Linked DNA regions of Homo sapiens. The protein of the gene in region 1 interacts with the protein of each later gene in a pairwise test. Each region holds a gene or a part of one and is shown in the gene's direction. Other genes may lie near its edges. The genes, in order: PLEKHG7, RAB7A, NF2 and PPT1.

The links.
Region 2: the proteins of PLEKHG7 (region 1) and RAB7A interact in binary tests that used the Homo sapiens proteins (3 or more experiments, as listed by UniProt).
Region 3: the proteins of PLEKHG7 (region 1) and NF2 interact in binary tests that used the Homo sapiens proteins (3 or more experiments, as listed by UniProt).
Region 4: the proteins of PLEKHG7 (region 1) and PPT1 interact in binary tests that used the Homo sapiens proteins (3 or more experiments, as listed by UniProt).

Annotation. Positions count from the first base shown.
Region 1 is NC_000012.12:92,767,794-92,772,955, forward strand, and holds the end of PLEKHG7 (pleckstrin homology domain-containing family G member 7), read left to right. Parts: intron 1-1,189; coding exon 1,190-1,287; intron 1,288-2,294; coding exon 2,295-2,402; 3' UTR 2,403-4,662; downstream 4,663-5,162.
Region 2 is NC_000003.12:128,728,578-128,736,772, forward strand, and holds part of RAB7A (ras-related protein Rab-7a), read left to right. Parts: intron 1-8,195.
Region 3 is NC_000022.11:29,668,809-29,676,720, forward strand, and holds part of NF2 (merlin), read left to right. Parts: intron 1-3,017; coding exon 3,018-3,140; intron 3,141-4,460; coding exon 4,461-4,678; intron 4,679-6,027; coding exon 6,028-6,133; intron 6,134-7,912. UniProt on the Homo sapiens protein: Probable regulator of the Hippo/SWH (Sav/Wts/Hpo) signaling pathway, a signaling pathway that plays a pivotal role in tumor suppression by restricting proliferation and promoting apoptosis.
Region 4 is NC_000001.11:40,086,928-40,095,122, reverse strand, and holds part of PPT1 (palmitoyl-protein thioesterase 1 isoform 1 precursor), read left to right. Parts: intron 1-2,615; coding exon 2,616-2,725; intron 2,726-2,950; coding exon 2,951-3,078; intron 3,079-3,723; coding exon 3,724-3,794; intron 3,795-5,610; coding exon 5,611-5,713; intron 5,714-8,195. UniProt on the Homo sapiens protein: Has thioesterase activity against fatty acid thioesters with 14 -18 carbons, including palmitoyl-CoA, S-palmitoyl-N-acetylcysteamine, and palmitoylated proteins. In contrast to PPT2, PPT1 can hydrolyze palmitoylated proteins and palmitoylcysteine.

The DNA of each region.
Region 1 (5,162 bases):
TTAATGATCAGCAAGAATATGTCACTTGCTCACTTTTTCTCTTTCCTGAAGTACTTGATGTGGGCAGGAGACAGCCCTGGCCTGTTTTTGTTTGTTTGTTTCTAAACACTGACTATAGAAAGAATGTATAGGGCGGGCGCGGTGGCTCATGCCTATAATCCTAGCACTTTGGGACGCCGAGGTTGGGTGGATCATGAGGTTAGGAGTTCGAGACCAGCCTGGCCAACAAAGTGAAACCCCCGTCTCGACTAAAAACACAAAAAAATTAGCCAGGCGTGGTGGCGGGCGCCTGTAATCCCAGCTACTCAGGAGGCTGAAGCAGGAGAACCATGTGAACCTGGGAGGCAGAGGTACAGTGAGCCGAGATCCCGCCACTGCACTCCAGCCCGGGCGACAGTGAGAGACTTCGTCTCAAGAAAAAAAAAAAAAGAGAGAAAAAAGAATGTGTAAGCTTCAGGACTGTGTTGTATTAATAATTCAAAGAAGAGACTTTCATTTTAAGCGCTCCTGCTATATTAGAAAAAGAAGTCTGCTCTCCCACTATCTTTTCTTTGAGGCCAGCTAGGAAATGACAGAACAGGCTTTCTTTTGCAAACACAGAAACCATGCCAATGTCTCTTTTTGTTTTGTTTTACATTTCACCCAGTTTGGTGGATGCTGGATTTTGAGTGGTTTTTGGCTTTTCTTGGCCTGAAGTATTCAGGTGGTTTTGTATTTTTGCCACATCTTAATTTGTTTATAAACCTTGGTTGGATGTGACTTCCCTTTAAACACAAAAATAAAATTTTTTAAAGGAGTGGTGAAGAACAAAGAAGAAAATATTATATTGTTTTGTATATTTTTATTATCTATATTTTCATACACAAAAAAATCTACCGCATATGTTTAGCTTGTTCTACGAGCAGGGGCCCCATTACCTAAGCCTTAGTTGCATTTCATCAAGTATCAGAAGTCATTAGCTAAGGAAGAAAGGGTTTTTATAGTAGAGTAGGCTTTATTTGGACATAGTGGTGGGGTCTTGGCATTGAAATAAAATTTAAAAAAAAATTATAAGCTAGATAAACCTCCCACCCTCGTTAAAACAGAAACAAGCCAAATAGAAAACAAACCCCAGATTCTTGTACTAAGAAATTGTTTGGATTTCATATGAAATGATTTGGCTTTTTGTCTTTGTAATATCTTTTTCTAGTCTTTGGGCTGAGAAATGCTTTTCTTATACAACACGAAAACAGATATCGACAGTGTATAGCAGCATTCTTATTACAAGCCCAAACGGAAAACATCAAAGTATGTATTTTAATTTTGTAGGTCTTTGATTCTTCAGAGTTTACATAAGCTCCCCCCAAGTGTCTTAAGTAACAGTGAATGGAAAGTTTTGTGTTTTTCTCTCACCCACTTGGGAAGGGCAGATTTGGGAGGAGGGGAGGGGTACATCTAGTCCATATAATGCTCAAAAGCCTCAGTATTGACAATTTCCTCACACTTGTGGGGTTGAGGAACAATTTCCTCACACTTGCGGGGTTGAGGAACAATTTCCTCACGCTTGCAGAGTTCTCCTGCAGAAGCTCAAGAACTGCCTGCGTTCTACAGTTTCTGTAGGAAATGGGGGAAGAATTGATTTGGATTGCATGATGAACCTTTAAGATGCTCCAATCAGTTTCCAAAGTGCATATAATAGGATATTAGCTTAAGGAGGGCCTGGCGCAATAATGATCCCTGTCAAGTCAGCTTGTCAACCTTTGAAAAACTGCCATTGTTTTTACAGCTATGGAGTTGAAAGAGCAGCTGCCTGACTCTGGTTTCTCTGTCTTAGAAGTTTCTATTTTTGTATTTCCCCTGGTAGGCTTTCATCATATCTACAATGTGGCCAGACAACAAATGCAATATTCAATTTCCTGGGTCACTGCCCTCAGTCTCTTTCAAGTTATACTACAGGTTAAGAACTTGTTTCCACAGAGAATAGAAATTCCAGCAATGCCACTTTCAAACTACATATATTCTCAGTGCTCATTTTTCTAATGAGTTATCATTGACTATTGTTTCTTGATTACTCATAACTGTTATCCAACATGCATACCATACTCATTTAGCCCATCTGCATTTTCCTGTAAGATTAGAAGTATTTATATTAGATGTAAGAAAGAAAATGGGAAACATATGCAAATGTTTCATTAGTCTTCAGTTTTAAAGAGCTGGTCAATAAATATAGCAGAAAATATTAGCCCAAATATGTGAGAAATTGTCAGCTTAACATTCTAATCTCTATTTATGTATTTTTTTCTTTTTTTCAACAGAAAACATGGATGGCACAAATAACAACTGCAATTTCTTGCTTTACCAAGAGTCAGGAAACCAAGAAAATATCTTTATTCACATTGCCCGCAGAATCCTCTGAAATTTAGGGACCTAAAACAAGTGGCATGTCTTTTTAGAAGATTATGGTTTAAGGTATAATTTCATTCAAAGTTTTGTAACACTTAGCTAGTGATAAGCTAGAAGGAAATTTGCATTTTAAAGAAGTTTCAGAATTTGAAATTTTGAGCTAGGAAAATCCTCAGTATAGAGGAATAATGACTGCAACAAATTTGAACTCTGAGGAATTTCTTGACAAATATATACTGACATCCAGATTACCTTCTAATGCTTCCGTCAGGTTTGTAAGAGGTGTGAGTGAAGAAAGGTGCTAATTTGTAAAGGGTGAATGATCAGATAAATGGAGTATCAGAAGGAAAACAATGTCCACTGCTTATGTCCAATATGAACTCCAGCATCTTACTCTGTATCCATAAAATAATGAAACCAATTTTCCTTCATGGCCTGTCAATCAGTCTTAACCGCTTTATAGTCCTACCTCAAACATAATGATAAATCTTTAGATACAAAGCTTGATTGTTCTTTTAATATACAAAGCAATAAATAGGGACTACATTTAAGTAGCAGTTTTAAAATTCCTATTCTCAAACTCATCTCAGGTATATAGTACTCTAACGTGGAAGTAGAAAATCCCAAAGACTAAATTCCATTACTTTAAGATAGGAAGAAAAAAAAAATCTGGCTTTCACCAGTTAACACTTTTGCATGGCTTTTCTTGGCCTGTTGTGAAGTGTACAGATTTTCATAGACATAGTAAGGTATCTGTCTCTTAACTTTATTTTTTGAAGAATGATGGTGTTTGCCATAAAAATACTTTCTGGTTTTGATTGGTGTGTGTGTGTGTGTGTGTGTGTGTTAGCACAGTACAGTCACTTAATTTTATTTGGCAGGACTTCAAATTTCTTCAGAATTTTTATCATGAAAGGCAGTTTGAATAATTATTATCATGGCAGGATATATACTATTAACTACATTCAAGGAACTAGTTCTTAGGGTCAGATTATTGCATCAAAGGGAAGTCCACAAACTTCCATTTCAGAATCGTACCTTTTGCAATTTGCAAAGTGAAAGTAGTAAATTTATCAAATTTGGCTGCAAGACAACTGAAGCCTTAGCTGATTTTGTTAAGCTGAAGAATGGGGTAGAGAGGATAATGTTTGGGCAAGTCATGTGCCCAGTAATTCCTTGAGGAAGGTGAAATTTCACTATGCAAACAAAGCAGTAAAGACAAGTGCAGCAGAAAGGCTTTTGTACAAGGCAAGCACTATTAGAATGGAGACTAATAACCTCTTTATAATAATGTCAGAAATTTAATAGAAGAAAAAAAGGAAAATCTGGAGGACAGTAACTATTGTTAATAGCTAAGAATAAATGAGGTGGAGGGGAGAAAAAGGGGAGAATAGACTTCAAGCTTCAAGTGAATTCCTAGAGATGGCATCTGGATGGGACTGAAAGCAGTTATGTCCAGGAGAATACAATATAGATTATGCAAGAGAAGATTTTATAAAGAAATTTCTGGTTAAAAAAAATTTTTACATTAACAATCATCTTGCAAATGTTTAGATATAAACTAACCTCGGAGGTGAGCAGTGGACTAGGATGAGGTGGCCTCTCAAATTCCTTTAGTCCCATGAATCCAGCAACCACAGACTTACATGTATAAAGGTAGTTTTCTCCCTCTGAATCTCATTAAAGGGAGAGACAGACTGACTAAATTAACAAAATATATAAAACAGCTCAAGAATATGCTGTACATAAACTGGAATTCTATAAAGCTCACAAAGTAACATGTCTAATATACAATATATTAGATGTTTGAGGATATGCACATTAAACTCTTTGGAGGGTTTAGAATGAAGCACATTCGAATGAAGGGATCACGGGGGTCAGAACAAAAACCATTCTAGAACCGTGGCTCCCAGGAAGAAAAAATAGCAAAAAACAATGGCACATTGGGCCTTCCAAAAAGTATCTTTGGGGAGGGGAGGGAGAAAAATAAATAAATAAATAAATAAATAATGTTTTAAGTATCTTTAAATGGTCATCTGGGTATTAAATGCAGACACACAATGAAATAAGGGGTTAATTACATATTTTTTATATTTGTTTTTAGTTTTGTTAATTCTCTACAATATTAAATGGAATGTCTAAGGCAAAATGGCATTAATAATTTCTCTTGAGATCAGGAATTTAATTACTATTCGAAATTGAACAACATTAAAACACCACTGTCTATATCCAAGTGCAAAGTCCTAATATTCTGTAAATAAATTAATGCAAAATGGTTAATACAGTGTTCTCTCTTTTGTTAGACAAAACAATTTATAGTCACAGAATACAACTAGTTTAGAAAGAAATGTTTTTAATATAATATTTAAACATATTAAAAAAAAGCAACAATTCAATAAGGATCCTTCCATTGTTCTTTATACAGATTTAAATGCTGTCACGTACTTTATCAGTTACATTTATAATTAATAACCTTCCAATCACTGAGTTTAGAAATTGCAGTATTTACTGAGCTAACCTTTCTCACAAAGTAAGGCACAACTACATGATCACAAGTAGTAAACACAATACAAATAATGAACCCAAAAACTAAATGAGAAAATGTTCATGCATAAGTATCTACAGAACTTATGAATATATGATCCAGTTCAAGGAATTACAGAATGTCATATACACAACTGCATTGTGTTACAATAAATTTATTACTTCTACACAGAAAGAACTTAGTGACTTCTAATTCTATTTTATACAATTTTACATAAATTTAGTAAGTTTATGCA
Region 2 (8,195 bases), on another chromosome or scaffold:
TCAGCCTCCCGAGTGGCTGGAATTACAGGCATGCGCCACCATGCCCAGCTAATCTTGTATTTTTAGTAGAGACAGGTTTTCTCCATGTTGGTCAGGCTGGTCTCGAACTGCCTACCTCAGGTGATCCGCCTGTCTCGGCCTCCGAAAAGTGCTGGGATTACAGGCATGAGCCACTGCGCCCGGCCGACTCTGGTAGCATTTTTTTGTTCACTCAAGAGGTAGTCCATGTCACTACTGTAATTACCTTGCACTGCCATGTCTTTGAGCAAAGGTACATTTGGCATGCTGGATTTTTTTCTTCAGCTGGCAAGAAAGTTTAATGTAGCACTGATAGTGTACTGGCCATAGTTTCAGTACCATTCTACATAGAAAAGCTGTGTTACCCTATCTCCCACAACTTTCTAGATTCCCTTCTTTAAGGGAAGATTTGGATTTTACATTTGTGGTAGAACTGCATAAGTAAACAGAGGGTGGAATGTAGAAGATAGTCTAAAAATAGTTTTATTAGTATATCCTTCTAGGTAGTTAGCAACCACTTGGGGCAATTTTTTTTAAAATTTTTTTTTAGTGCCAACTGTGTCTAAGCTCACCAACCCTGTAATCAGAGAACAACTCTTTATAGTAAAGTGTGGCTTTGAATCAGTTTTCTGACCCCACTGCCAAGTGAAGCCAAAAAATTTTGGTTATTTGATTAGCTTTTAATATGTCTTCAGCTGGGCACGGTGGCTCACGCCTGTAATCCCAGCACTTTGGGAGGCCGAGGCAGGTGGATCATGAGGTCAGGAGATCGAGACCATCCTGGCTAACACAGTGAAACCCCATCTCTACTAAAAATACAAAAAATTAGCCGGGCGTGGTGGCGGGCGCCTGTAGTCCCAGCTACTCGTGAGGCTGAGGCAGGAGAATGGCGTGAACCCAGGAGGCAGGGCTTGCAGTGAGCAGAGATCATGCCGCTGCACTCCAGCCTGGGCGACAGAGCGAGACTTCTTCTCAAAAAAAAAAAAAAAAAAAGTCTTCAAAGGGATCTTCACTAATAACGTTTTTGCTCTTACTTTGGCATTAGACTTTGTAAACAAAGATGTAGCAAACACAGACCACGCAAATATGACAGTTGTCTTATGCACATTCCTCTCTGGCATTTGACACAAATATTTTAGTTTTTCCTATGATAAAGTATTTATCTCCCCATTCATTTAATTCAACAAATACAGCTGAGATAGATTTGACCAGATGTTGGACTTGGAGCTGTAGGCAGGCTTTTCCTGGGGAGGTAAGGATTAGAAGTCCTCCTGAATAAGGCTAAACAGAGGTTCCCCTTGGCATTAAATGTCTTCTTCTGAAGGCGACTGAAACTCGAGAAATGAACTCCCCGCCTCCCCCCTTATTTTTTGGCTATTGGCTTGCTGTTGATGATTCTTACCTCTCATGTAAGGAAGGCTACCATTGTATTCTCAGGCATCCATTCCTTTGTGTTACCACATGCTTATCTGTTAATATTATCTAATAGTTCTCTATGCTTCTCTGTCTGCAGTTTGCTGCAGAAACATTTTTGCAATATGCTGATCTTTTCAGTTATTTGCTCTTAAATCTTCTATTCTGTTTTTCCCCACACTCCATATGGCATTAAAGACAGAAAAATAGTTTGTGTTTTAAAACTTTTTTTTTTTTTTTAGACGGAATCTTGCTTTGTAGCCCAGGCTGGAGTGCAGTGGTGCCATCTCAGCTCACTGCAAGCTCCACCTTCCAGATTCATGCCATTCTCCTGCCTCAGCCTCCCGAGTAGCTGGGACTACAGGCACCCACCACCACGCCCGGCTAATTTTTGTATTTTTAGTAGAGACGGGGTTTCACCGTGTTAGCCAGATTGGTCTTGATCTCCTGACCTCGTGATCCACCCGCCTCGGCCTCCCAAAGTGCTGGAATTACAGGCGTGAGCCACCATGCCCAGCCTAAAACTTATTTTTAAAACATTTCTTAATGGTGGTGGTCACTGCGATTTGTGAATCAGAGGTAAAAGTGATGTGGCGAGTGAAATCAAAACAAGTTTTTTAGCAGTGTCTGTTACCAGTTTCAATTTTAGTATCCCAGGCTGTGATTACAAAAACATATTTAAGAATAGCTACTTGCAAAATATCTCCTTGTGGGAGGAAGAAAGCTTGGGAGTTGGTTCCAATGCTGACCTACAGCATTGGCCTTGTTCATTTGCTTGAAGATGCAGTACTTAACTCATGGGGCCTGGAGTCTCTGTTTTGGTGATGGCATCACTGCTGAGAAATTTAAGTTTGCCTGATTCTGTTGTCCACTTCTGGTGTCCTGGGACTGTCTACAGTTGGGACCAAGCAAATCCAAGGGAGCCTATTTAAGGGGAGCCTGGGACAAGGGCAGTTTAGGAATTCTCCAGCCTTGCTTGTCTCTTAGTTGGTCCTTCTTGTGTGGCTGCTGCCAGATAAAGGAAAGGAAGTTCTCTCTTCTCCCTCAGCCTTTCCTTTCCAGCTTTGCTTCATACTGCTGGGCATTAACCATCTCAGATCAGGAGTCCTTTAAAAGTTACTTAGTGAAGTAAATAGTTACATCATTGATTTCCAATATTGGTATGTAAGTGTAATAAAAAGTTGGTTTCCATTGAATAAGCTTTGTAGTTTGAGTTATTTGAGAGTGCATAATTACAAAGCTGCTATGAATTAACCTTAAATAACCAAGCATAGACTTTATGAAAAATAGTGTCCCTTATATGTGGTATTCAGTCAGCCTACCAACAGTTCTTCTGTTCACTTACAGATATGAGGATCCCTGAGATAACTGCGGGTCATTTAAAACCCACTCTTAAATCCTCTGACCTGCACCATGTTAATGGTTGTTAAAAAAGCGATAACATTTTGTAGAAACCTTCCTACACATTTGCCTTTAAATGCTTTTTAATGTTTCTGTGGTATTTGTAGTTTACATGTGATTTCATTTGGTGCTCACAACTGTTGTGTGTATCTGCCTGAAATAGCTGAGGCTGTATGCTCAGGTGGCTCAGCTGGAATGTCAGTCTAGGTCTGCTAACTCAGTTCAGTGCTCTTTCTGATGTACCATCCTGCCTTTCCATTATATGCTAGTGCCCTAAAGACCACGACATTTCACCCCTTGTAAAAGTGTATCTTTCGGCCGGGGGCGATGGCTCACACCTGTAATCCCAGCACTTTGGGAGGCCGAGGAGGGTGGATCACAGGGTCAAGAGATAGAGACCATCCTGGCCAACGTGGTGAAACCCCGTCTATACTAAAAATATAAAAATTAGCTGGGCATAGTGGCATGCACTGTAGTCCCAGCTATTCAGGAGGCTGAGGTAGTAGAATCGCTTGAACTGGGGAGGCGGAGCTTGCAGTGAGCCGGGATCGTGCCATTGCACTCCAGCCTGGCGACAGAGCAAGATTCCATCTCAAAAAAAAAAAAAAGTGTCTCTTTCTTCCACTACCTTTTTTTTTTTTCTCTCTCTGAGACAGAGTCAAGCTCTGTCGCCAGGCTGGAGTGCAGTAGCATGATCTCGGCTCACTGCAACCTCCGCCTCTCGGGTTCAAGCAATTCTCCTGCCTCAGCCTCCTGAGTAGCTGGGGCTACAGGTGCACGTCACCATGCCCAGCTAATTTTTGTATTTTTAGTATAGATGGGGTTTCACCATGTTGGCCAGGATGGTCTCAATCCCTTGACCCTGTGATCCGCCCGCCTTGGCCTCCCAAGGTGCTGGGATTACAGGCGTGAACCACCACGCCTGGCCCACTACCTTTTATTTAAAATGATACGTCTTTTTTGCTGATTATTAAACTATTCAGTTAAAAAAAAAAAGCTAGGAAAATTCAGAAATATAAAGAAGGAAAATTTGTGATTCACTACCCCGAGGAAGACCAAAGTGTTAACTGGTTATTTTCTTCCTTTGAATGTATACTTTCATACCTTCCTTTAATGAGATTGAACTCTTGGCCAGGCATGGTGGTCAGTACTTTGGGAGGAGTAATCCCAGCACTTTGGGAGGGTAAGGCAGGAGGATTGCTTGAGCCCAGGAGTTCAAGACCACCTTCAGCAACAAAGTAAGACTCCATCTCTACAAAGAAAAGAAAAAATTAGGTGGGTGTGGTGGTACACTTGTGGTTCCAGATGGTGGGAGGCTGAGACGGGAGGATCACTTGATTCCAGGAGTTTAAGGCTGCAGTGGTTTGTGTTCGTGGCACTGCACTCCAGCCTGGGTGGCAGAGCAAGACCCTGTCTCAAGAAAAAAGAAATTGAACTCTCCCCAAAAATGATGTGAGAATTTAACTGTGGAGGAGACCAGATACTCTTGGGTGATGTGACCTGTGATACTTCTCCTAGTAGACACTGAATGATGAGAAGCTGGGGATCATAGGAATAGCTGTATTTTTCAAATGTTTGTTGGTAACGAGTGAGGAACCTGATGCATCCAGCTCCAGAGTAAGGTTTATTTGCCATGGTAACACTGGATAAGTACATTGTTGCCTGTATTTCCAAGTAATTTATCATTTCTGTATTTTAGTAAACATACATATATACAGAAAAGTGCACAAATAAGTGGACGGCTTAGAGAATTTTTATAAACCCAGAGGCCCTCTTAGTCTCCTTTAAGTCATTATCATCGATGCCCTGATGCTTGCGTAGTGAGTCTTCTGATTTCTAGAACTGTAGACTAATTTTGCCTGATTTGGATTTTGTGTAAATGGAATCATACACTGTGTATTCTTGCGTATCTGGTTTCTTTGACTCAGTGTTGTTTGTGAGACTTTGTGTTGTTGTGTACAGTTGTAACTGGAGTTTCCATTGCTCAGTAGTATTATGTGATATATCATAATGTATTTAAGTAAAAAGACTGAGTTTTAGGGTATGTGTCTGTATTCATTTGCTAGGGCTGCCGTAACAAGTATCACAGATAGAGTGGCTTAAACAGAAATTTATTTTCTCAATTCTGAAGGTTAGAAATCTGAGGTCAAGCTGTCGGGAGGATTAGTTTCTTCTGAAGCCTCTCCTTGGTTTGTAAATGACTGTCTTCTCTTCCCTGTATCTTCACAGGATCTTTCCTCTGTATTGGCTGTGTCCTATTCTCCTTTTCTTTTAGGACACCAGTCGTATTGGATTGAGGCCCACCCTTATGACCTCACTTAACCTCAGTTACTTCTTTAAAGGCCCTGTCTGCAAATAAGTCACATTCTGATATATTGGGGATTAGAATTTCAACTTAAAAATTTTAGGTGGACACAGTTCACTTCATAAGAGTATCTATTCTGCTCTAGTAGATATGGCCAGTTTTCAAAAGTTGTACCAGCGTATTCTTCCACCAGCAGTATATAAGAAGTCCAAATATTCCACATCCTTGCTAGCACTTGTAACTTTTTCTCTCTAATTTTAGTTCCCTCTGGTAGAAAGCCATTTCTTTATGGCACCATGGTACAGCTTGTTTACTCACCAGTGTAGGGGAACCTCAAGGGACTGGGGAAGGTTATCCTGGAGTAAAACGTGTCAGTTTGAGACTACCTCTTGTAAATGCTACTTAAATCCATTGGGGTTAAAAGCAGAGGTTCGGCCAGGCACAGTGGCTCATGCCTGTAATCCCAGCACTTTGGGAGACCGAGGTGGGCGGATCACTTGAGGCCAGGAGTTCAAGACCAGCCTGGCCAACATAGCGAAACCCTGTGTCTACTGAAAATACAAAAAATTAGCCAGGCGTGGTGGTGGGCACTTGTAATTCCAGCTACTTGGGAGGCTGAGACATGACAATCGCTCGAACCTGGGAGGTGGATGTTGCATGAGAATCGCTTGAACCTGGGAGGTGGAGCTGAGATTTCACCACTGCACTCTAGCCTGGGCGACAGAATGAGACCCTACCTCAAAAAAAAAAAAAAAAAAAAAAAGGAAAGAAAAGAAAGAAAGGAAAACACCGCTTCAGTCCAGTGAATGAGCAGTTAGTCTTCCATAGTTGCCCATAGCTTACTTTTATAGTCTGGACTCCATTCCTGGTGGTGGAATTGGCCTGTGAAAGAGTAATCTGTGGGGTGTAGATCTAACCATAGTAGATGGTGCTTTCATTCCAACTCTCTTTTTTGGTCAGACACTTGAGCCCTTAGAATATCACATTCTATCGTACATATGCTAGAAATAGGTCTGTTTTGCATATTCTGACTGACCCTTCAGATATTAGTGGGCCTTTCACCACCAGCCTTTTGGCTGCGTGATCTTCAGCTTTGTGTATCCATTATAGACCTTAGTTTGATTGAAATAATATTACATGACTTTGCCTGTCTTCCAACTCTAAGCCACTTGAGGACAAGGATGAATCATTATTCTAGAATGGATCTTGAAATATTACTAAGCTTTTGTTTAAATTTTTTCCAGTTCTAGCTTTTCAGAGTAAGTTACCGTTTATAGCATGTAAGTTATGCTTCTGGGTCAGTGGTTAATATATGTGGGTTTCCTGAATGATGAACTATGTGTTCTGTGTTCATTTAACAGGTTTTTCTTCTCTACTATAAGAAAACACTGTTGGCCCCTGTGGAGAATTATTCAGGAATAATTGTAAATACAGGGCAGATGAGAGTTACTTAGTTTAGAGTTGTTCAATGCCTGGGGTGGTGAGGGGCATGTTGAGTGGATTTTTAAATAAATTGGTAGGCAGGTGAGAGTTGGGAAACCATTATAGTTGGAAAGAATGGCATAAGTCAATGAATGGATGTAGGGATTGCAGTAGCTCTAATTTGGGAATGACTGTATGTATGGAAACCAGATCCTGGTAGGGAGGGCAGGCACTGCAATCCCTTGTTAGAGGATTTAAGTTCAACCAAGTGGCACTTCACTCTGTAATGCTGGAATAGACACAGCATAATCCTGTCACTTGAACCTCACAATTAAGTCAGATAGTACCCCAGTTATGGGTGAGGAATGGCTTTGATGTTGTAATTTGTCTAAAGAAACCATACATTAAGAGCTTAGTGGGCTAGGATTGAAATACTACAAGAGTTGTGCTTAAACTTTCAGAGAGTTGCTTCTTCAGAAGTGGCTTTAATGAAAAGTTAAACATGGGAGCTGGTTAGGGGAGGTGGGATAGAGGAAGAGAGCAGTTAGTTTGGTTTTCCTCTTTAGCCAGCCCATTGTGGGCTCCTCTTAGCAATTTATGGGCAGTCTGTTTTACTGGTTAAATGCCTGAGATAATCTAGGGTTGATATCAAACTATCGAAGATAGTTCTTATGTAACTGTTTTACTAGCTATCTGCTTTCCAGTTTGCCTTACCAAAAAGAAAAAAAGGCAGGAATCATCCTGGTCTCTCGTTAGAGACTAAACTTTTGGCTTAGTACCTGGGTTCAGAAAGCTTGATGACAGTGGTGCATCGTATTGAAGAATCTATTGATCCAGGAGTGAAGTCCTCTTCACAAGAATTGCCTTCCAAGACACTCTTCTTTGTGTAAGTTGCCTTTGCCTTTTCCCTCCCAGCAGGAATGCAGTACTCAGAGCAAAGTACATAAACAATGTCTTTACATTTCATAGAGGTTGTTACCTTGTTTAAACTTCACAATTTAAGCAGCATTTGATTTGTCTCTTTTTTTTTTTTTAGATGAGGAAATGGACTAAAAGGTCATGCTCAGTATCTTGGAGCCACTGTGTGTTAGTGGGACTGGGACTAGCATCCAGTATTCCAAGTTGACAGATAATTCTTTAATAATGGCAGAAGAATAATAGCATCTTCTGCGGAAGAACAGCCTTTGTACATTTTATCATTCAGTTTTATTTAAATGTTTTTAAAAGAGGGATTTCAGACTAGTCTGTTTCTTTTGAAACATAGATTTTCAGGTGGTGAATCTTCAAGCACTATCAGACAGAATAAGCTAGGTTATGCTGTAGTAACCAATAACCTCAAAGTGGTCAAAAAGAGCATGGGTTTTCTAGAGGCTCTGCATCATTCTTACTCCAACCAAAGGAGCAGCCGTGATAGGAGTATTGATGGCTGTCTTGGCAAAGGGAAAAAGAACTGTTGGAGGCAGTTAAATTCCAGCACGTACAGTTTAAATCCAGCACATACAGATAAATTTAAATACTGTTAAATAAAGTTATTTAACAGTATTTAAATTTAAAAAAATTTAAATACAGTTGAATACAGTTAAATTCCAGCACAGGAATGACACATTATTTCATGTCACTTCTGCTTAGGGTTCAT
Region 3 (7,912 bases), on another chromosome or scaffold:
TCTAATTAGATGGTGATAGAATGCCAGGTGGCATTTCAGTGCTTGCGGCTGGAATGCTAATTTGACTCTGGCTGCAATTCCCCACTGCAGGTCAGGCCTTATGGCATGTCACCTGCCCCAGGAGGTGCCAGGAGCATCTATCAGCAGACTGGATGATCTGCATCATTGTTTTCTACTCATAAACCTTCTCTGCTCATGGAAATCCACACAACTAATTTGGGCCTTACTGCTGAGAATATCAATTGTGTTTTTGGATAAACTACTAGATAGAGTAGCAGCAGCTGCAGTTGGCTGCCCGCAGGACTTGCAAGCTCAGAAGTGTAATAATTAGTCTGTGTGCACCTTTCTGATTTGGATACATTGGAGAGGCTGGTCCCAGCCCTAGGATTTAGAATGAAATGCCCAGTGTGCTTTCAGCTCTCTATCTCTTTGCTTTCTGAGGTAGTGGGCCACAAATGTGTTCTTTGGGATGCTTTCAGGGTGATGGGATGGATTTGTTGGACAAAGAAATCCTACTGAGCCAGCATGGGGTCATAGTGGCAGTTTCATGAAGAGCTCGTGGCAGTGGCTCATCCCTATAACTCCAGCACTTTGGGAGGCCAAGGCAGGAGGATCACTTGCCTAGGAATTTGAGGCTGCAGTGAGCTATGATTGCACCACTACATTCCAGCCTGGGTGACCAAGCAAGACCCTGTTTTAAAACAGAAGCAGAAACAAAATACCAAAATAAATAAATAAATAAGTAAATAAATAAGAAGGAGGAGGAGAGCTTTCTTTGACCTTTTTCTTAGCAGAGCAAAGCTTAGAAGTAAGAAATCTGAAAGTGTCAGGGAATATGCAGTCTGTGGGCCCTGGCAGAGAATAGCAGGAACACTGCAGATCGGCACTGCTTACAGCACAGCAGAGCCACAAACCTGGCATCTGGGCAACCACAGATCAGGTGGACAGACACTGACCTTGGAGCCAGATCTGAAATTTAGAATGTGAGTAAGTCAATGACTTACCTTCCAGACCTTAGTTTTCTCATCCATCAGGTGAAACTAATGATATACCTTCTCCATCTCAGATGAAGGGACGTATATTACACCTTACAGTCTTTGTATGCAGTAAACTTCTTTTGTGAATAGGAGGTCTTTTATATTGGGGTAGAGGTCTCAGGGAAAGTACAGGGCCAGGAACTGAAGGAGATTACCTGGCTTTTTTTTTTAATAAAAGGGTCTTGTTCTGTCACTGAGGCTGGAGTGCAGTGGTGCCATCATAGCTCACTGTAACCTCAAGCTCCTGGGCTTGAGCAATCCTTCTGCCTCAGCCCCTCAAGTAGCTGGGACTACAAGTGCATGCTACCACACCTAGTTAATTTTAATTGTTTCGTAGAGATCAGGTCTTGCTATGTTACCCAGGCTGATCTCAAACTCCTGGGCTCAAACATTCCTCCTACTTCAGCCCCCCAAAGTGCTAGGGTTACAGGCATGAGCTGCTATGCCTGCCTGGCCTGACTGGGCTTTTTCTTTCTTTCTTTCTTAGTTTCTTTTTTTTTAAAAGAATTGTAGATATGTAGTAAGCCACCTTATGGAAATTGTAATATGATGGAAATTAGAGAACAAATTGGCCAAGCTTTTCATTGACTTACAAGGAGAAAATTGGAGAAGAACTTTCACTGTTTTATTGCTTGTCTTTGCATTATCTTTTTGAGCTTGTGTGTGTGTGTGTGTGTGTGTGTGTGTGTGTGTATTTGGCTTAGGATTTAGAAAAAGCAGCAGTCTTAGAAACCTTGTATGACCAGAGTGTGGGATAAGATTGAAGCAAGAAGTAATTAAATGTGCTTTAATTATTTAAGGCAGAAAATAGTGCAGTGGTCACTTCTGGGTTCTGCTTTTTGAACTCAGTTAGTACCCTGGGATCACAGAGGAATGGCACTGTCTTGTGCTTGTTCCCCTTATTAAGCTCAGCATGTGGCCCAATTAATGCAGTGATCCAGAAGGCAAGGGAGGTAGTGGTGGCTTTGTGCTGTTGCCTTAAGGACACGGGGCTGTGTTTCCCGCCTGGCTCCCTCCTGTCCTAGGCCTGGCTCAGGAGTTGTCTCCACATGAGGCTGTGCAAGTCTGTGCTGTGGCTGTTGCAGCTCCCCCCTGTGAAATACAATGTGTGAACTATTGATGCATCACGTAGAATGATTCCATCTTCTCTGTGGGTCAGAGGCAAGAGTGGAGCTATTGTTGATGAAATCAGAGATGTGAGAGGGGTCCATGTGGATTAGAAATGGTGAGATGGCTTGCCTGCCCAGATGAGAAAGCTGCTTATTTCTGGGGCTCTATCTGAGGGAGGAGGTCCTGCATTGCATCCCATCGGCCATGGGGCAGAGCCACCTGGGGTTTCCCAACAAAAAGCAACATTGGCAAGGTAGCCATTTCAGTGCACCGTGTATAAGAATGCCTCCTTCTGCCAGGCGCGGCGGCTCATGCCTGTAATCCCAGCACTTTGGGAGGCCAAGGTGGGTGGATCATAAGGTCAGGAGTTCAAGACCAGCCTGGCCAATATGGTGAAACCTGATCTCTACTAAAAATACAAAAATTAGCCAGGCATGGTGGCGGGTGCCTATAGTCCCAGCTACTCGGGAGGCTGAGGCAGGAGAATTGATTGAACCTGGGAGGCGGAGGTTGCAGTGAGCCGAGATCGCGCCACTGCACTCCAGCCTGGGTGACAGAGCAAAACTCTGTCCCCTCCACCAAAAAAAAAGAATGCCTTTTTCTATCCGGGTCAAGACTCAACAGGTTTTTATTGTTTGTTCATTTGTTCATTCACCACTAGACTGTTTTTCAAGTGGCACAGCTTTCAACTCTGCAACTGGTTTAGAAGGACGGGGTGGGGGGCAATAAGAATGACCCTGGCTACCTAAAGGAAAGGGAAGGAAAAAGGTCCCAAAAGGGGAGACTGGAGATGGGGCATCTTTGGGCCCTTGTGGCACCCTAGGTCTCGAGCCCTGTGATTCAATGACTGTTTTTCTTCACCCCTCGCAGATGGAGCGGCAGCGCCTCGCTCGAGAGAAGCAGATGAGGGAGGAGGCTGAACGCACGAGGGATGAGTTGGAGAGGAGGCTGCTGCAGATGAAAGAAGAAGCAACAATGGCCAACGAAGCACTGGTGATTTCTGAGGGGCTGGGGTTCCAGGAGGCTACTTGGGGACTTCCTTGGCTTTTCTGGAGCTTGGTCTCCTGAAAACCATGAGTTAGCAGCGTTTGCTTTGAAATACTTAATTTCAGCTTTGAAAAAATCAGTGCCTTTTCTTTTCACCTGTGTTGGCAGAAGCAGATTTAGGTTGAGCTTATGTGCAGCCAAACTCCACTTTCACCACGAGGTTGCCTTTATAGCAGGGCTTCTCAGCCTGGGCACTACTGACATTTGGGGCTGACCATCCTTTGCTGTAGGAACTAGATCCCAGTAGCAGCACCTCACCCTCCATTTGTAACAATCCAAAACATCTTCAGACATTGCCACATGTCTCTTTTTTTTTTTTTTTTTTTTGAGACGGAGTCTCGCTCTGTTGCCTAGGCTGGAGTGTACAGTGGCACGATCTCAGCTTACTGCAATCTTCACCTCCCAGGTTCAAGCAATTCTCCTGCCTCAGCCTCCTGAGCAGCTGGGATTACAGGCATGCATCACCATGCCCAGCTAATTTTTGTATTTTTAGTAGAGATGGGGTTTCCCCATGTTGGTCAGGCTGGTTTCGAACTCCTGACCTCGTGATCTGCCCGCCTCAGCCTCCCAAAGTGCTGGGATTATAGGTGTTAGCCACCGTGCCCAGCTGTACTTTTATTTTTTTTTTTTGAGATGGAGTTTCACTCTTGTTGCCCAAGCTGGAGTGCAATGGCATGATCTTGGCTCACTGCAACCTCCGCCTCCTGGGTTCAAGCGATTCTCCTGCCTCAGCCTCCCAAGTAGCTGGGATTACAGGTGCGCGCCAACACATCCAGCTTTTTTTTTTTTGTATTTTTAGTAGAAATGGGTTTTCACCATGTTAGCCAGGCTGGTCTTGAACTCCTGACCTCAGGTGATCTGCCCGCCTCAGCCTCCCAAAAGGCTGGGATTATAGGCGTGAGCCACCGTGCCCCACCTGCCACATGTCTCTTGCAGGGGACAAAAAACTCCTCTGGTTCTAACCACTGATTTAAAGGGAAAGAACAGAGTTTAAGTTGTTTTTCTCCACGTGAAGCATAAGCCTGAGCTGAGGTGGGTACTCAGAGAAGGTGCTCTTGTTACTCCCCATGGGTGCAGCCCGAAGGGCCCTTCTGAAAAGTTGGGGAATGTGGCTTGTCATTTCTTGTCAGAGGGTCATGGAGGGCACTCAGCAGCAGGGCCCCAGGAGTCCGAGACTCTGGTTTGTCCCATCTCAGTGTTCAAGGCAGATCTGGGCGGGAGAACAGCACATGATCCCACTTCAGCTAAGAGCACTGTGCCCTCCAGATGCGGTCTGAGGAGACAGCTGACCTGTTGGCTGAAAAGGCCCAGATCACCGAGGAGGAGGCAAAACTTCTGGCCCAGAAGGCCGCAGAGGCTGAGCAGGAAATGCAGCGCATCAAGGCCACAGCGATTCGCACGGAGGAGGAGAAGCGCCTGATGGAGCAGAAGGTGCTGGAAGCCGAGGTGCTGGCACTGAAGATGGCTGAGGAGTCAGAGAGGAGGTGAGGGGGCACCGGGCACCAGACTGGCGAGGAGGCTGGCGAAGGGCCGCAGACCAGCCTGCCCTGAGGCTGAGCTCTACAGCAGTTGTCCTCAAGCTGCTTGCCCATCTTCTGGGCCGTGGGGAGGCTCCTCCTTGGCTGATGGTGACTGGTGCTTTATCCATTTTGGGGCTGGCGCTACTGGTTGGGCACAGGAACTCAGTTCCCCCTCCAGGGGGGCCTCTCTGGTCATACTTGTGTCTCTTTGATAAGCCCCTGTCCCTCTGATGGCCGTGTGTGCAGGAAAACCCCTGAGCATATCCACAGACCGCTTTCAGCTGAAGAGATGTGAGGAGGCTCTTTGTGCATTTAAAAAAAGTGTGGTTCTTTTCTGCTTTCATTCAGTGGGGCTGCAGGAGAACAGCAGCTGCCTACCTTTAAAGGGAAGCTAGTGCCTGCATCCCCCAGCCTTTCTTGGCACATGGGGGAGGAGGGCTAGGATGATCTCTGTGACTGGGATGTCCCACTCATGGCCAGGTTGAAGGATGGAACTGTTGTCTGTACTTTTGAAAGACTATTCTAGGCCTGCAACCTTCAGATAAACACTGACACATTCCCCACAGCTTTTGGCTCTGTTGATTTAGAGCACTTGAATTTGGCTTTTAGCTACCAAGGTGCATTCACTACAGTTTTCCTCACCACGCTTTGCATGTCGTTCTGGGAATATGGTTCCTTTTTGCCTGCCCTGCTTCAGGCCCCTTACTGTATTCGGGGGTCACTCCCTGTGCATGATGCAGGTTGGGCCAGGTCCCTGCACCAGGCCTCACATGCCGTGACCACCTGAGCCCCATAGGATGAGGATCTGCACCAGGGTGCGGGTGCCCTCAGTGACTGGGCTCATCTTTCTGCTGGAGAAAGTGGGCACAAGGCCCACTGGTGTTTTATCCGGGGGCTGTGAAGACGCAGTTCTTGCACATTCTGCCCTTTGCGATCCAATATAAGAACTTTGATCCTCCAGGTTCTTCCTTTGCCCAGCTCACTCTCACCCAAAAATAAAGCAGAGAAAGCTGCTGGTGCCCTCTCCAGCTCCTCTGTCTCCTGGCTGCAGAAGGTCTGGTTTCTCTCATTCCCCACCAGTTTTCCTGCTCTTCCAGTTTAGATTTACCAACTCAAACAAAAGTCCTCAGGAATGTTGTCCTTGCTTGGAAGTTCTGATTTCATGTAAATATCCCTGTCTCACTGTCCTTTTTCACCTCTTTGGGTGCCATCCTCAGGGTTAGCCCAGGTCCCTCCTCTGCAGGGGTGGGGTGGTGTCTTTTCCTGCTACCTGCCCTCTTCTGTGAAGCTGACATCTCATCCTTTCCTTGCAGGGCCAAAGAGGCAGATCAGCTGAAGCAGGACCTGCAGGAAGCACGCGAGGCGGAGCGAAGAGCCAAGCAGAAGCTCCTGGAGATTGCCACCAAGCCCACGTACCCGGTGAGCCTGGGGGCCACCAGCTGGGGCTGCCTTAGTCCTGGTGATGTTCTCTTTCCTCCCGGCCCTTCAGTTCATCTGGCGGTGCCTTCAGGGTGACCATTCAGGCAAACACATGGCTGGATGAGAGGTGCAGAGAGCCTGCAGTTAGGGACTGGGTAGAACATCCTGGTCTGCCATTTGGCTTTGGACTAGTTAGTTGTCTCTTTGGTTGCCTGGATAACAGGCAACAGGGCCTTTTCCAGCTCTGGAATGTTTTTCTTTTTCTAAGTAATATAGTCCCAAATTATCCTCAAGAGAATTTGCTCTCTTGCCTCTTAATGCTGAGCTGAATGTAATCTTCAACTATCAGTATATACCATATATCATAATTATAGTTCTGGGAAGGGATTGGCTGTACACCTCAGAGTGAATTACTGCCGTGCAAGAACGAGCAGCCACTCTCAGTTTGGGGACAGAGAGTCAGACTTCCATTAAATGGGGTCACAAAATGAATAGAAGCCTCTTTCCTTCCTTTCTTCTGTGCATTCAGTTTGGCATTTTTTTTTTTTTCATATTTGTTCAGTGTCCACATAGTGCCATGCAGTTGGAAGTCTCTATCCTGACAGGTGTTCTCAGGGTGCACAGGTGCCTAGAGGAGGAGGACACAGCCCACCCTGGAGGAGCAGGAGAGGCTCAGTGTGGTGTCTACACTGATGCTTGAAGGGGGAGCAGGAAGTAGCCAGGTGGAGAAGAGAACATAGGGTATTCAGGGTGAGGGCACAGATGCACACATGGCCCAGACTCACACACAGCACAGTCATCTACATGGCACAGACACACACACGTACCCATACATACATTGATGCACATAGCACATCCACACACACAGCACGGACACACACGCACCCATACTTACATTCATGCACATGGCACAGGCACATACATGACCCAGATGCACAAAGGGCACCAGAGGCACAAGCTGCCCAGGGTTTGAGGTGGGGAAAATGTAAGCAGTTTGCTGTTGCCGTATATCCCGGTTCTCCGTTACTGTGTAACAACCCACCCAAGCCAGCTGTGTGGCTTTGTTAGTACCTCTGGTGGCTTGTTGGGTTGACTGGGCCAGACAGAGATCCTTGCTGGGGATCTCTCTGGTGGTCACAGTCAGATGGTAGCTGGGACTGGAGTCGTCTGAGCAGTCAACTGGGCTGAACACCTGAGATGTGTTATGTTTTTATTTTTTATTTTATTTATTATTTTTTTTTTTAGAGAGAGAGAGTTTTATTTACTCTGTCACCCAGGCTGGAATGCGGTGGCAGAATCTCGGCTCACTGCAACCTTAGCCTCATAGGCTCAAGCGATCTTCCCGCCCCAGTCTCCTGAGTAGCTGGGACCACAGACATGCACCACCACGCCCAGCTAATTTTTTTTTTTATTTGGTAGGGACAGGGTTTTGCCATGTTGCCACAGCTGGTCTCAAACTCCCGAGCTCAAGTGATCTGCCTGCCTCAGCTTCCCAAAGTGCTGGGATTATAGGCATGAGCCACTGTGCCCAGCCTATATGTGTTGTTTTTAAAATATACACTGGAGCAAAGCTTATACACTGCTGTAACTGCTCTTTCCTCTTAGCAGTCAATCCTGAAGGAGATCATCCATATCAGCTTTTTAATCATGTTTTGTTGTGTGGATGGATTGTAATTTATTTAACCAGTCCCTCATGGATGAGTATTTAGTCTGTTTTCTTTTGCAATTTTGAACAAAATGACACTGAACATCCCTGAACACAAATCTTGACACACACAC
Region 4 (8,195 bases), on another chromosome or scaffold:
CAAGGAAGATAAAGGCTGACAACTGATTATTGGATTTAGCAATATAAAGATGATTAATCTTGACAAAAGCAGTTTTGGGAGAGTCGTGATAGTGAGATCTTTATTGGGATGGGTTACAGAAAAATATTCAGAGTAATTAGAGTCAGCAAATACAAACACTTGCAAGGTTCTCCAACAGGCCCTGGGGCTACTACAGTGGGGTCAAAAGAGGACACAGGGTAGGAGCTTTGTGTTTTCCCAGAGCTCACAGTCAGTTACAGGGGAGGCAGAGGCAGTTAAGTAACCTACAATTACAGCTCAGTGTGGAGAACGTTGTTTTCAGAGAAATAAAAGGAATAGACAATTCTCTAGGCAGTAGCCTTTTCTTGTTCTAAAATTGGTGCTTAAGCTTTCTCGCAGGTTGAAAATGGAATAAGTAAGTTCAAAATGGGAAATGATCTCAGTCCACTTCTACTCAGTAGCCAGTTTGCTTCCTGTTCCTAGTTCTAGTTCCCTGAAATAGAAGAAACAAGTCTGGGGCTAGGACAAGATGAAGAGGCTCCTGAAGTGCAAATTTAAGGAGGCACTCACTCTCAAATTCAGGGTCAACACTTACATAAACCTGAGAATGAGTGCCTCCTTAAATTTTGTGCCCTAGAGCGGGGGTCCCAAACTCCCTGGGTCTGTGACCTGTTAGGAACTAGCCACACAGCAGGAGGTGAGTGAGCCTGCAGCCTTACCACCATGAGCTCTACCTCCTGTCAGATCAGCAGTGGCATTAGATTCTCAAAGAGCTCAAATGCTGTTGTGAACTGCGCATGTGAGGGATCTGGATTGGGTGCTCCTTATGAGAATCTAGCAAATGCCTGATGATCTGAGGTGGAACAGTTTTGAAAAATTGTCTTCCACAAACCTGGTCCCTGGTGCCAAAAAGGTTGAAGACCGCTGTCCTAGATGCTTAATTTGCCTCACCCTAGTCCTGGCCCTGAAGAGAAAACTTTGCATCTGTTCACCCCAAATATCCCCTGTGATAGGGGAAGGGAATGTGTACCTCTGCTTATTTTTCATTTGTAAATTTGGTGTCTTAATTATCCTATATGGGCTTTTTGGTTTTTTTGAGACAGGGTCTCGTTATGTTGCCCAAACTGGTCTCGAACTCTTGGCCTCAAGCAATCCTCCTGCCTCGTCTTACCAAAGCGCTGGGATGATAGGTATGAGCCCATGCTTGGCCTATATGGATTTTTTTTTTTTTTTTTTTTTGAGATGGAGCCTTGTTCTGTTGCCCAGGCTGGAGTGCAGTGGCATGATCTTGGCTCACTGAAACCTCCACCTTTCAGTTTCAAGCGATTCTCCTGCCTCAGCCCCCCAAGTAGCGGGACTACAGACATGTGCCACCACACCCGGCTAATTTTTGTATATTTAGTAGAGATGGGGTTTCACCATGTTGCCCAGGCTGGTCTCGAGCTCCTGACCTTGTGATCCACCCACCTCGGCCTCCCAAACTGCTGGGATTACAGACGTGAGCCATGACACCCAGCTCCTGTATGGACTTTTGAAGCTTGTTATTACTTGATAAACAGGAGCTAAGCAAAAAATGTTCTTTCTTCTGTTTTTTAAAATTGAGGTAAAAATTCATGTAAAGTTAACCATTTAAAATGGTACGATTCAGTGGCATTTAGTGTATTTGCAATGTTGTGCAACTAACACTTCTTTTTCAACACCCCAGAAAAACACACATAGCCATTAAGCAATCACTCCCTATTGCCCCCTCCTACTACTTCTTGATAATCTCCAGCTTAGTTTTCTGTATCTCAGTGGATTTGCCTGTTCTTTATTTATCCTATGAAAGGAATCATGCATTATGTGGCTTTTTGAGTCTGGCTTCTTTCACTTAGTATAATGTTTCTGAGGTTCATTCAAGTTGTAACATGTGTCAGCACTTTGTTCCTTTTTTATAACTCAGTAATATTCCATTGTGTGAATATACCACATTTTATTCATTCATTCATTGATGGACTGCTGGATTGTTTCTCCCTTTTGACTATTACAAACACTGCTGCTGTTAACATCTATATGCAAGTTTCTGCATGGACGTGTGTTTTTATTTCTTTGGGGTGTATAACTAGGAGTTGAATTGCTGAGTCATTTAGTAATCGTATGTTTAACTTTTTGAGAAACCACCAAACTGTTTTTCACAGTGGCTGCTTATTACATTCCCACCAGCAATGTCCAAGGGGTCCCATTTTTCTACATCGTTGACAATACTTGTTATTTTCTATTAAAAAATTATTATTAAAGACATCCTAGTCTGTGTGAAATGGTATCTCATCGTGGTTTTGGTTTGCATTTCACATGCCAGTGGTTAGCCATTTGTATATCTTCTTTGGAAAAATATCTGTTTAATTTCTTTTCCCATTTTTAAATTAGGTTATCTTTTTGTTGAGTTGTAAGTGAGTTATAGATTCCTTGTATATTCTGGATATTAAGCCCTTATCAGATAACTGTTTTGCAAATATTTTCTTCCATTCTATACATTGTTTTCACATCCTTGATAATGCTGTTTGAGGCCTCAGAGTTTTTAAACAATAAACAATATTTGGACTCATGAGTTTCCATCATTGTGTTTTGTTGGCTAGGAGACAGCTGTTGCAATCCCTTAAGCATGGGTGCTATTAAAAAAATGGTGGAGAAGAAAATACCTGGAATTTACGTCTTATCTTTAGAGATTGGGAAGACCCTGATGGAGGTAAGGCGCTTCACAGCTGTTCCTTTGAAGGGTTGCTGACTGATTTCATAGCATATACTGTTAAAATGCTTTGCCTTGTGTTTTCAGCAGCAGATCATACAGTGATACTTTCACCCTTGAGTGGCTCATGTGAGGATACCAACCTAAATGAGTTTACCTCTTAGAGAAGATGTCAGTGGTTGTTTTCAGTCCCATCCTCTCACTTCTCTCTGGCTTCTTTTTTAGGACGTGGAGAACAGCTTCTTCTTGAATGTCAATTCCCAAGTAACAACAGTGTGTCAGGCACTTGCTAAGGATCCTAAATTGCAGCAAGGCTACAATGCTATGGGATTCTCCCAGGGAGGCCAATTTCTGTACGTTCCTTTTTGTTATATTGTACCACTTATATGGAATTGATTTTTGTTTCTTTTATTCAGATAAATCCACTCCTCCAATTCAAGATTGTCACCTATCTTGGAAGGGAAATTTCCTAAAATGTTCCTGTGTAAGAAGCTTTATGGAACTTAATTTCTTTTCTTTTTTTTTTTTTTTTGAGACAGAATTTCTCTCTTGTTGCCCAGGCTGGAGTGCAGTGGCGCGATCTCAGCTCACTGCAACCTCCACGTCCCAGGTTCAAGTGATTCTCCTGCCTCAGCCTCCCGAGTAGCTGGGACTATAGGTGCTCACCACCACACCTAGCTAATTTTTTGTATTTTTAGTAGAGATGGGGTTTTACCATGTTGTCTAGGCTGGTCTCGAACTCCTGACCTCAGGTAGTCCACCCACCTCAGCCTCCCAAAGTGCTGAGATTACAGGTGTGAGCCACCATGCCTGGCTGGAGCTTAATTTATTTTCTATGAAAGTTGAAAGAAATATTTGCATTTGCCCATATCAGGAAAATCCTGAAACTCTGCGGGTTTGGGGAGTCACAGAGGATGACTAGCTTAATCTGTGATGCTGATTGTGGATGATACATTTCCATCTGACAGTCGGAGCTAAAACTCCCTTTTATTCCGTAGGAGGGCAGTGGCTCAGAGATGCCCTTCACCTCCCATGATCAATCTGATCTCGGTTGGGGGACAACATCAAGGTAACTTTGCCTCTTTGCTTTCTTTTTTCTGTATTCTAACCCACATGACCACCTGATTTAAAAAAAAATCTAGGAACTATATTTGCACAAGACATCAGCCATTCTTGCAAAATCCTGTTTCTCTAGCTTTTAACAAACTAGCCAGCATTGCTGGAGACATAGGAAGAGACTTAGGATTCCAGAGGCCTGGATCACTAGGTTGGCATCTACTTCTCTCCAATTTCATTGACACGATTGCATGGAAGTAAGATGGTTATAGCCACGTGGCAGGTGGTGGTTGAGGAGTTAGGAAAATTGAGTGACCTTTTCTGTTCTCTGATTTGGTGGTATCCTCTTGAATTTAGGCTTAGGCAAAGAATAGTGTGTAAGCTCTTGTGTCTATAAATTTAAACTCTTTGAGAAACAGCAGGTTTTCTATTTTGACGGAATTCCATACTATTGGGGAAGGATGTGTCATTAGAATGGAATTTCATCTCTGTTGTTGATGGGTATAGCTATTAGCTGGTATAATGTGGGAGCAGAATGATTCTCCGTGTAATCAGGAAACCTGGACTCACCCAATTAACTATTACTCCTAGGCAAGTAATTTGGTATCTTAGGTTCCACTCACAGATGGAAGAAACCAAAATATGGCCCTGCCTGTCCTATGGGAATTTTTCAGAGGATAAAGTGAAATAATAGGTAGGAAAATACTTTTTAAAAGTATAAGGATTATACAAACGTAAGTTGGTAAAAACAGCTTTATTATTCATTCATTTAACAAATATTTATTGAAAACCTATTATATGCCAGGAACAAGACAGACAAGGTTCTTGCATTCATGAAATATATATATATACACACACACATGTGCACATATATGCACATACATACATAGACATATATATACACATATGCACCTATATACACACATACATAGACATATATAGACATATATATACACACATATGCACTTATATACACATATATACACACACACATATATATATATACACGATAAAATGGAGGATAGCTGGGCACATGGTGGTGTACACCTGTAGTCCCTGCTACTTGGGAGGCTGAGGCTGGAGGATCATTTGAAGCCAGGAGTTCAAGACACTGTGGTGTGCTGTAATTGTGCCTGTGAATAGCCATTGCACTTTAGTCTAGGCAACATAGCAAGACCCAATCTCTTGGAAAAAAACAACAGGATACTGTTCGAAGGACACACTAGTGGTTGTAGTGCTTAAAGGAGTGGGCTCTGGGGCCAAACTGCCTGTGTCTGAATCCTGGCTTATACCTTATTGTCTAACCTTGGACAAGGTATTTAACCTCATTTTTACAGTTTTCTATCTGTGATATAGGGCAAATAATGAAATCTACTCCACAGGGTGGTTGTGAGGATTAAATTAATTATTGCCAATATTTTGCTTAGAACTATTTGTGTTACTCAAAACAATGTTATTGATGAGGATGCTAAGGATGAAGTATAACTGGGGGAGGGGAAGGAAATGGGGGTGGGTACTATTTGAGATAAGGTGGTCAGATGTGACTTGTGTAGGACCAAGACCTGAGAGCTGAAAATGCGTCCAGCCATGTGATGCAACACATCCTCCAGGGATGAGCAGGTAAAAAGATCCTTAGGCAGGAAAGAGTGTAGCAGCACCAGGAGGAAGCTGGTGATAGTATTAGTTCTCTGCGCTTTATTTTCATGAGGAATAAGTGAATGAAATCAGAGTTTGGTCCTGTTCATTTTGTTTCTCACAGTGCCTTGTGCATAGTGGGTATTCGATACATCATTATTGAAGGAGTGGATATTTGTCATCTACCACTGTAGGTGTTTTTGGACTCCCTCGATGCCCAGGAGAGAGCTCTCACATCTGTGACTTCATCCGAAAAACACTGAATGCTGGGGCGTACTCCAAAGTTGTTCAGGAACGGTATGTATGGTTAGCTGAAAAGATTACAGACCTGTCACCGTGTGAAAATATCATGCTGACTTTCATGCTCACAGTGATTCCAGCAGTAGTTCCTTGTGATATTCAAATGAGATCTTTTTTTTTGAGATGGAGTTTCGCTCTTGTTGCCCAGGCTGGAGGGCAGTGGCGTGATTTTGTCTCACTGCAACCTCTGCCTCCCAGGTTCAAGCGAGTCTCCTGCCTCCGCCTCCGAGTAGCTGGGATTACAGGCATGCGCCACTACGCCTGGCTAATTTTGTATTTTCAGAAGAGACTGGGTTTCTCCATGTTGTTTAGGCTGGTCTCCAACTTCCCGAGCTCAGGTGACCCACCCACCTTGGCCTCCCAAAGTGCTGGGATTACAGGCGTGAGCCACCACACCCGGCCTTCAAATGAGATCTTTTTGTACTATCTGCTCAATTTCATTGTAAACCTAAACTTGCTCCAAAAAGTCTATTAACTAAAAAACAAAGAAAGAAAAACAAGGGCATTTTTCTATGTAAGAAGAATGTAATTATAACAGAATAAATTTCCATCCTTAAAAAACAAACAGAAAGCCTTTAGAAAGTACTAAGCTCAAGGAATTATTGTTGGTATTTAGAGGACAGATTCTTTATGTCATTAGCTACTCCCTATATCACTGTCCCTGACTACTCAAATGTATTTGGGTATTTAGCATGGCCAGCCTGGCATAATGGCTCACACTTGTAATCCCAGCTCTTTGAGAGGCCAAGGCAGGAGGATTGCTTGAAGCCAGAAGTTCACAACCAGTCTGAACAACATAGTGAGACCCCTGTCTCTGTTAAAATCTATTTTTAAAAAAAAAAAGATGCAGAATTACTTTTGTAGTATGTGCTTGTTCAGTTGGTTCCAAACTTAATTGTATATCAGAACCACAGGGAAATTCATTAAAAATGGATTCCTGGGCTTTATCCTTAGAAGTTGTGGGCCGGGCATGGTGGCTCACGCCTGTAATCCCAGCACTTTGGGAGGTGGAGGCAGGTGGATCATGAGGTCAAGAGTTCAAGACCAGCCTAACCAACATGGTGAAATCCCGTCTCTATTAAAAATGCAAAAATTAACTGGGCGTGGTGGCGCACGCCTGTAATCTCAGCTAGTCAGGAGGCTGAGGCAGGAGAATCACTTAAAAAACCCGGGAGGCGGAGCTTGCAGTGAGCCGAGATTGCGCCACTGCACTCTAGCCTAGGCAACAGAGGGAGACTCCGTCTCAAAAAAAAAAAAAAAAAAGTTTTGATGGTAGGTCTGACGTGCTCTTGATGATAGCTGGAGTTTGGGATCAACTAATATCCTGTGGGTTTTCCAAGTGTCTCATTCTTGTCAAATAACAACTTTTTATTACAGTATATTCTTGAAGCCATTTTCCAAGATACAGCCTTGTGACTGACTCATGTTGTAACCACCTACAGCTAATAGCTGTCTTTTCTTTTCCCACTCGTTGGCTACACAAATAGCCACAAAGCTGTTTTGGGTCAGCAGTACCACCTGATGGTTATTATAGAAAACTAAGATACTCTGTACCTCTAGCTCCTTTTTTTTACCCTCAGGCTACACCAAGCTTTCCCCTTTGCCTGGTTTGATTGGCTGTGGCTAATTACAACTTAATTATTTATATTCTACATATTCTCTGTTCTCATGGATTTGCATGGTATTTAAACTTCATTCTTCTTCCTTTACTCTTTATTCTCACTCTTGCCCAGTTGCCTCCAAAACGCCTATACTTTTCTTTCTTTGTGTGAACCAAAACAACCCTTGGCGATCAGAATTCTGTTAGTGATGCTAAGTGAGCAGTCCGTCGGGGGGTGACAAGTGACACCTAAATACTGATTAAGGCGGGGCGCAGTGGCTCATGCCTGTTATCCCAGCACTTTGGGAGGCCTTGGTAGGCAGATCACTTGAGGCCTGGAGTTCAAGACCAGCCTGGCCAACATGGCAAAACCCCATCTCTACTAAAAATACAAAAATTAGGCAGGCGTGGTGGTGCACACCTGTAGTCTCAGCCACTCCGGAGGCTGAGGCTAGAGAATTGCTTGCACCCAGAAGGCGGAGGTTGCAGTGAGCTGAGATCGCACCACTGCACCCCAACCTAGATGACAGAGTGAGACTCTGTCTCAAAAAATAAAAATAAAAAATACTGATTAAAAGCTATAGATTGATGTGTTTATCTTCACTTCCTCCTTAAACTTTAATTAAGTGGTAGCAGAAGAATAAAAAGTGATAAACCCACAAGGGCAGAGAGAACAGGGAGAGAGGAGGTAAGAGATCATAAAAAATGGCAACATGTTTTTGAAAGCAAGCAAGCAGATGAATGAGTGTGAGAACTGTTTTAGCAGAGCAGATGGTGAAGGCTTAAAGTAATAAAGAGAAATCATTTTGTCTTTGTGATACTGTCCCAGGTTGCCCCTGGTATTAGGGAGGATTAATTCTGGTTGCAAGAAGAAACCCA